Regions from separate parts of the Homo sapiens genome. Here region 2 is linked to region 1. The links come from fine-mapping of genetic effects on gene expression. A gene starts in region 1. The other region holds a variant in brackets. All regions are shown on one strand. Distances are from middle to middle.

Region 1 (4,000 bases):
ATTTTTCCCTCCTCCCAGCCCCAGGCAACCACTAGTCTACTTTCTGTTTCTATGGATTTGCCTATTCTGGCAAATTTAACATAAGAGGTATCATACAATATGTGGGCTTTAATATCTGACTTCTTTATTTAGCATAATGTTTTCAAGGTTCATCCATGTTGTGGCATGTATCAGTACTTCATTCTTTGTGGCTGAATAATATTCCATTGTGTGGATATACTTCATTTGGTTTATCCATTCATCAATTGATGAACATTTGGGTTCTTTCTACTTTTTGGAAATTATGAATGATGCTTCTATGAACATTTGAGTATGAGTTTTTATGTGGACACAAGTTTTCAATTTTCTTGGATATATACCTAGGAGTGGAATTGTTGGGTCATATGGTAACTCTTTATTTAACTTTTTGAGGAATTGCCAAACTGTTTCCCAAGGCAGCCATACTGTTTTACAGTTTTACCAACAATGCATGAGAGTTCCGATTTCTCCACATTCTTTTCAACACTTGTTATTGTCCATTTAAAAAATTATAGCCATGCTAGTGGATATAAAGTGATGTGTCATTCTGGTTTTGATTTGCATTACCCTAATGACTGATGATGTTGAACAACTTTTCATGTGCACGTTGGCTATGTGTATATTTTATTTGAAAAAATGTTTATTCAAATTCTTTGCCCTTATTTAATTGGCTTGTCTTTTTACTTTCTTTGTTATTATTATTATTTTAGAGATGGGGTCTTTCTGTGTTGCCTAGGCTGGCCTTGAACTCCTGGGCTCAAGTGATCCTTCTGCCTCAGCCTCCTGAGTAGCTGGGATTATGGGTGCTGGCTTATTTTTTCACTTTCTTGATAGTGTACTTTGAAGCACAAAATTTTTAGTTTTGATGAAGTCCAATTTATATATTTGTTTCTTTTGTTGCTTATGACCATCTGCTTTTTAAATTAAACTCAGAAATCCTAAAGCTTTTCCATTAAGCACAACAAATAATAAAACTATATATCTTAATTCCATGTTGTAGCAATTTAAGGGGGTGGAATTGACGTCAGGGAGAGGGAGAAGGTGGGGGTAGACTCTTTACTTGGACTTTAGACCTCAAAGTCTGAATGTTAGCAACTGCCTTTGAGCATTGAGCACATAATCATCAAGGATAACTAACTCTTTGGAAACTGCCTTAATCACTAAACCTTCAGTAGCTTTCTTCTGGAAGGGGTGAAGCCCCTGCTACCAAGAAGGAGCTCACTCTCTGCACTGCAGCAATGTTACCTAAGGACAAGTGAAAATGAAGATAAAGTGTCAGAAAAAGGGAAAGCTTTGCAGTCAGGCTGTTAGGAGTCTCCACTGGGTTCTCTGGAACTAGATGCTGCAACAGAGGTAGAAGTGCAAAGGGGAGGATCACCTGTGAGTGGAAAAGGGAGGAAGCAGTTTGGCCAGGAGGAGCTCTTGGCTTCTGATGCAGACTTGACAAAGCCTCTGCCAGTCTAACAGGGTGCTCTGAGCAAAAATTGCTTGTTAGAGGAGTTCCGCATTGGTAGAAGAGGGATGGGCCTTTGTACTACCACCTTGCTCAGCCATTGGCTAGGGGCTGCCTTAAGAAGAGAGTGACTGTGGCTTAAAAACTCAGGTGGTCCTTGAAGGAACTAATTGCTGGGGGCAAATAAAACCAACATTCTTGGTAGCAGGGGAGTGAGTCCTTTATTGAAGGGGCAATGTAAGCATGGCATCTCTGTGTCTGTCTACCACACAGACAAACATGAAGTTCAAATTCCAACAACATGTGACCTTAGGCAACCACTCTGCCTCAGTTTTTTCATCTGTAAAATGGAGAAAATGCTTTCCTTACAGGGTTGTGGGAGGATTAAATAAGACAAGAATGAACATAGTGCCTGATACAGCACAGGCATTCAATAAGTATTAGTTCTTCCCTTTCCCCCAGATGAAAATAAGCCAAGGGAACATTCTGTTCTGCAAACCAGTTCCCACCCTGCTCTTTCTAAACTTCATTTTCTTTCAATTTCCAGTAGGGGACCAAGCCTCTGCGGCAGTTTCCTGATCTTCTGGATATGCTGCCACGCTGTCCCAGGGCTGGTGGTGTCCCCTGACTTGTTCCTCTCCTGACTTTCTCAGCCTGGAGACTGAAAGCTCTCTTTGGCTGTTGGCCCTCCCAGGCAGAGTCCACTGGCTGTTAGGGTGAAATGGGGCTGATGCTTCCTGGAATCCACCAGAAGTATGCAAATTGCACCATCTCTTTCAGCTGCCTGCGCCTGCATTCCATCGAGGATTCCGGTAAGAAGAAACCATCCTGTTCCTCTTTCTAAGTGCCTCATTAAAGCTGGAGGACAAATTCCTCCTGCTTCTCTTGCCCTGGGAGGTGAGACAGCACCTGAATGGGAAGAGGAGGTTGTGCTCCGCGTGACATCATCCTTCATGGGGTACTCTGACCACAGGGACACTGGTGTCCAAGGCCCAGGTACTTCCTGTGTGCCTGATTCACTGGGGAGTCTCAACTCGTTGGGGTATAAACATGAAAAGATTTTATTTCTTCCAGTAACTGCCCTGGCTGTGCTGTGCCAGATCTCTCTTTCCTGCTGAGGAGCCGCTCCCTTAACGACATCTTGGTCTGGTTCCATAACTTTTCAGCCACTTTCGGTTACTATAACAGTCTCATTCCAGTAATTAAGACTCAGCCTCTTATATTTTTAAAACTTTCATTGCAAACTCGATTCAGAGCTCTTCTCTCCCCTTCCCTCCAGCACAAGTGAGAGTTGGGTCCTGGTTGTTTGGAGCAGTGGAGGGGAAGTAGGGCCTGGCTTGAAGATGCCTCACCTCCTCCCTCTTTGAGGCCTCAGCATCTGTATTTGGGCAGAGAGGAGGGATGGAGAGTAAGAGACCTCTTTACAGGAGTGTCCTTTTCCCCTTCCTGTTCTTTGTGGCTCTGTTAGATGCTGAAGATCTCACCCCACCCTCCTCCATCACTGAACACCACCCTTTCCCCCTCCTTCCCTCACACAGATGCACCTCTCTTTAGCCTCAACAGTGGTACAGGTGCCCAACGACCCTTTGTTGACTTGGCCATGGGTACCTGGGCAAACCCTCAGCTCCTGCCCTTCCACTGACTTCCGTGCATCTCCATGCAGAGCCACAGGGCCTGCAGGAATCCTCTCCCATAATCCTTCAAGGGCCCCACAGACCTGGGAAGGGAGAGCTGCCCCCATCTTCTTCCCAGTCATGCTGCCCCAGGGTCCTTCGAGCCCTGCCGGATGGGCTACTGTAGTGGGCCTCTTGCTTTCAGAATCTCCCAGACTCAGATGGATACCAGTCTCTACATTCAAGTGCAGTCCCAGCCCTCAAAGTAAGTTCATCAGGCATCCTGCTTTTCCTTCCCACAGTGGGGTAGGTGAACAACAAGGGCACTGGGCTGCAGTCCTAGGCTTCCAGGATGGCAAGGACTCTGACAGTGAGCTGTGCCTCTGAGGCATCAGGGAGAGTCTGGATTCCCTCTCCCCTCACACTGGGGCAGGAAAGCACCCTTATCATCTCCACAGGGGCGTGAAGGGTGACTCTTCCTTGATCTCTCTCAGTCCTGCTCCTGACTGGACGTGGGCTGGGTGCCGGTCCATTTAGAGGGTGCTGGTGCCTTGAACAGCAGTGTGTGGAGGTGGCTGGCTCCATCTGCTGGCGGCTTGCTGGTAATTCTGTGGGGTTGCTTGGCTCCTCTTGGCTGTGGGTCTAGCATAATGGGGACACACGCTAGGACATGCACAGCTGCAGGCAGTGCTATCCTGTCTCTTCTCTTTTAACCTGTGTTGAAGTTGTCCTTCCTCCTGAAAGGATTTCTTGATTAATTCCCACCATTTGACATGCTCCTTCACTGCACAACCTCAGCGCTGAGACTCTCAATTGGTAGTAAGTTCATGTGCCCGCAAGTGAAATGTCTCTTGAGTAGTTTTCATGTGTTTTGAGGATAGTTAGTGTTTATTGAGCTCTTCCATGTGCCATCTAC
Region 2 (4,518 bases), 120 kb after region 1:
GACTTGGAGTTTGGCATCCTGTAGACCTTGATTTACGTAATTGATCTTTTTACAGCTCCTGGAAGAGGGAGCTATCTCTCCTAACTATGGGTGAAGAAACTGAAGCTTGAGGAGGTTGCCACTTTCCCAAGGTCACACAGCTTGTCAGTGGTCTATTTGGGATTTGAACTCCAGTGCAATGCCAGAATCCTTGTTCTTTACTTCTGTGGGGCACCACTTCTCTGCACCTGCCATTTGGTCTTCATTTGGGAGGCTTCCTTTAGATCCAGTTCCAGGCAAAACTGTGATTCCTCTTTTCTTGGATTGGACTGGCAGGTGCCCCTCAACTTCATGGAAGTGAAGAAAATTGTATCAGAAACATTATAAAACCATCTTCAAAAGAAGATGAAATTAGCTGGGCAACTTTGAAGCATAAGGTGTGTTTATTCTTCAAAGTTGCATGGTACAAGAAAAGTCAAAAAACTTTTGTCATGTAGAAAATACAAAAAGTAAAGTGTGCTTTGGTGTCACTTGGCTGATAATTTTCAATACTATCACGTCTACACAGCTTGTAGTCTGCCCTTGTGCCCATGCAGCTTTGCTCTTTTGTAATAGCAAATACTAATAATAGCAAGCACATATATAGCACTTGTAATGCGCCTGTGGCTGACTGTTCTAAGAGCACTTGCTTTGTAACTTACTAGCTTCATAACTAACTTAGTCTCCACCACAAACCCATGAGACAGATACTATTATCATCCTCAATTTACAGAATTTACAGGTGAGGAAAGTGAAGCACAGAGCAGTTAAGTAACTTCAAGGTCATGCAGCAAGTAAGGGGCAGAAGTGGGATTTGAACTTGGGCACTGCGATTCCAGAGTCTGTGTTCTTAACCATGCTTATATAAACTCTTCGTCAGCTTTGTATCACTTCAGTGCACAAGTTTCTTGCTCTGCTTTGGTGGTGTATTCTGTTGGGTGCGACCCTTCAGCTGGGGTCCCTCGCTTGGATATTGTACTCTGCACTTAGCATTTCTGTCTGAAGGCAGCTGTTGTATTGATGATGGAGCTGTGCGCCCCAGGGGCCTTGGCTTTTCCTTCTCCCTGTGTGCAGCCCAGTGCTGCATCTTGCCAGGACCTTGCATGCTTGCCCCTCTACTCAGGAGGAACACTTGCTTCTTTGATAAATGCATTTTGGCCGCACATCCTGTGCTGGCTCTTGTCTAAGCGTTAAGAGGTGTGGAAGCAACACAAAGCCCACTGGGGACCTCTCCTCTCTCCTGTACCCTCTGCCCAGCTCCATCCTTTTCCAGAAGTCAAGGAAAATCGAAGATCCAGGGCAACCTTGAAGGGAAAAGTGATCACAAAGCAGCAGCCTGAGGCAGTTGTGGGCAGGGAGACAGCAGCCCCAGCCTTTGGTTGCAGTGAGCGGCTGGATGTGCTAAGGAGTCCCCAGGCAGCTGGGGACCCCAAGTCTCTGCAGCCTCAGCTCTGGCTAGACAATGTGCTTCTAGAGAGTGGGCCCCAAATCTGAATCATTTCTGGGCCTTTCAATGTGTCTAGCACAGAGCAGACCTTTAGTAACCATGTTCTGGATGAGCGAATTTGCCCCTTAGTCACTGTTTGGTGCTCAGGATTTCTCAGGGAGTCTTGGGGCCTGCATTAGCCACAGTCTCCAAAAGAAAATGGGTTCATCTCAGATGGTTCATCCCAGATGGTTAAAATGAAGAGGACTTAACTTAGGAATGATTTACAGAAGTGAGGGCAGCATGGAGGGAAAACAAGAAATGGCGAGGCACCTAGAGACAAGCTGCACTATCCCTAAGGCTGGAGAGATGGGACTGAAGTGGGGTAGAGAATGGTGCCCCTGGAGCAACTGTGCAAAGGAGGCCACTCTGCAGGAGCTACAGCCATGCAGGGATAGAGCCAGAGACGTGGCCCTGAAACAGGCAGGGTATAGGGAAGAAATGCCCTGACTTTTCTCTCTTCCCATATTCTGAACTCTGCCAGCTGTTCCTGCTTTGGCCCCCCTACAAACCCTACTGGATGCACAGCAAGGGAGCCTGGTGAGACAGTCCTCTGGTGTCAGCCTCCTGGGGCCTGAAGGGTGGAGAAAGGATGGGGAGAGGGATCAGGATATGGTCCTTCCTGTCTCTCCTGTCCACGCCCACTGACCACTGGCAGGAGGCCTTTCACTTCTCCTCTGCAGGAGGATGATTCTAGGAGCAGCCAGATCCTGGGGGCTTGGCCTGCTTTGGAGGAATCAATCCCTCCCTCTCCTCTCCTTTCTCCCTCCTTCCTTCATGCTCTT[C/T]TTTTCTCTTGCCCTTCATTTAGACTCCACATTTTACAGGCGTTACTTGTCCCTCTGACTCTGGGCACCCAGGCACTGCTTCTCTCGTCTCCTCCTTCTCAGCCTTTCTTTCCCATCTTCCGGTTCACTGAAAGAACCTTGGCTGCTAGGCCAGCCCTGGACCAGCCCAGAGCCAGGGGTAGCTTCTGAGCCAGGGATGGGAAGTTGCTACAAGCCAGAGTGTGTGGCAGCCTGGATGGTCAGGCTCTCTGCTCAGCTTCCCACTCCCCCAAACCAAAGCCACAGGCCTCTGGGTAGCAAGTAACCACCTGTGTTGCTGAGCACCACAGCTCTGGGCCCTTCTCCTCCACTATGGAAGAGGAAAGCAAGTGGTTCTGTATGTCTACAGATTTTTCTCAAAGAGAATTTTGCTGGGGAGTGGGCAGGGGAGGGGCCAGAGTAGAGCCATAGCATATATCTCTTTGTAGCCTAGGAAGAAGTTGAGCAAAAGAACCACTTTTCCAGTGGCTAGCCCGGTGGGGCTTCCATTGCTTTGTTCATTCGTTTGTAAATGTTTCTGGAGCACCTACTATGTGTCTACCACTGTGCCAGACCCTGAGGATTCAGAGATGGCTGTTGCTTCTGACGGGCGATGGCCCTGTTTAGTGCCTGTGGGTGTATTTTGCCAACTTGAGCTCATTCTAATGTGTACCATACAGGCTCTTACTGATATCAGGTGATGGGACTCAGCCTGCAGTCAGCCAGATTTTGTGCATGTGGGTAAAGAGAAGCAGGAGAGAAATTTCCTATTTCCTAGAAATTGTGTGACTCTGGACAAGCCACCTAGCTTCTCTCTGTGGCTTCTCTATCTGTGTGAAAGGTATACCTTTCCTTTGAGGAATTATAACTTTCCCATCCCATGGGGCTGTCAATCATGAGGCTTTGCCTCCTACATTGGAGGGCACTTGACACAGGCTGGCCAACCAGAGTACCCCATTCATCCATCTTGCACAATGATTCCTCTCAATGTAGGCATGGAATCCTGCCGGTGTCAGTGGGTTTTCTTCGACTGTTTCCCCACCTCCCAAACCGGCCTTTCTTAGTCGTCCTTATCTGAGTTGATGATAATTCTAGCATTCCTATTGCTCAGGCTCGAAATCTTGTAATCATTCTGGACACTTTTCTGTCAATCCACATCCCAGTCATTATTAAGTCATTTTGGCTCTATTTCAAAACATGCTCCAAATCTTACCACTGTCCCACTCTGGTGGAAGCCACCATGATCTCTGCCTGGGTTACTACAATAGTCTGCTAGCATCAGTCACGCCCCCTACAGTCAAGTCAGTTCCAGGAGCCAGTGTGAGTTTGTTGTTGTTGTTGTTGTTGTTGTTGTTGTTGTTGTTTTTGAGACGAAGTCTTGCTCTGTCGCCCAGGCTGGAGTGCAGTGGCACGATCTCGGCTCACTGCAACCTCCGCCTCCCAGGTTCAAGAGATTCTCCTGCCTCAGCCTCCCGAGTAGCTGTGATTACAGGCGCCTGCCACCACGCCTGGCTAAATTTTTGTATTTTCAGTAGAGACGGGGTTTCACCGTGTTAGCCAGGATGGTTTCGCTCTCCTGACCTCGTGATCCGCCCGCCCCGGCCTCCCAAAGTGCTGGGATTACAGGTGTGAGCCACCGTGCCACGTCTATTGTGAGCTTTTTAAAATGCATGTCAGGTCATGTCATTTCTCTGCCTCAAACTCTTCAGTGACAACCCATTTCCCTTTCTATGTGGCCAAAGGTATAATGCGCCTCCCAGTCACGCCCATTATTTCTCTGATCCTGTAATCTCTACTTCCTTCTCTCTCGCTCTGCTTAGTCACACTGATCCTTTCTTTGTGCATCCATCATGCCAGGCATACTTCCACTTCAGGCTCTGTGCATAGGCTGTTCCCTTTGCCTGAAATGCTCTTCCTCCACATACCTGCGTTGCACCCTCCTTTGCCTCCTTCAGCTCTTTGCTCCCATGCCAGCCACTTTCTCGGTGAGTTCTTCTCTACCCTCTACCTCCAATTTATAACATAACTCCTGGCACTCTTATCTCCCTTCCTTGTTTTATTTTCCTTGTGATTATCACTATGTTGCATACTATACATTTTACCTACTCATTTAGCTTTTTATTTGTTCTCCACCCTTCTTCCAATAGAACGTTTTATTCCATAAGAGCATGGGATTTACATTTGTTTTGTTTATGGCTGTATCCCTGGTGC

Direction of the effects. Positions count from the first base shown, and alleles are read on the strand shown. Sizes are in standard deviations (SD) of each study's normalised expression.
In carriers of allele C in region 2, the expression in prefrontal cortex of the gene that starts at base 2,038 in region 1 tends to be lower than with T alone (small effect, 0.27 SD a copy in ROSMAP).

What was found. PIP is the estimated chance that this variant, and not a neighbour inherited with it, causes the effect. A credible set is the group of variants that fine-mapping cannot tell apart.
Region 2: its variant is the best candidate, but not a certain one, in a credible set for the expression of LINC02884 in prefrontal cortex (ROSMAP, PIP 0.55).

Annotation. Positions count from the first base shown.
Region 1 is chr1:112,358,645-112,362,644 of GRCh38, reverse strand. LINC02884 (long intergenic non-protein coding RNA 2884) reads left to right here and starts at 2,038. Exons shown (of 2, transcript NR_183466.1): 1 at 2,038-2,283.
Region 2 is chr1:112,241,410-112,245,927 of GRCh38, reverse strand. All of the region lies in intron 1 of LINC02884 (long intergenic non-protein coding RNA 2884), which reads left to right. Among named protein-coding and RNA genes, the nearest start is that of LINC02884, 120 kb to the left of the region's middle. The variant C/T (reference allele first, on the strand shown) is at 2,290.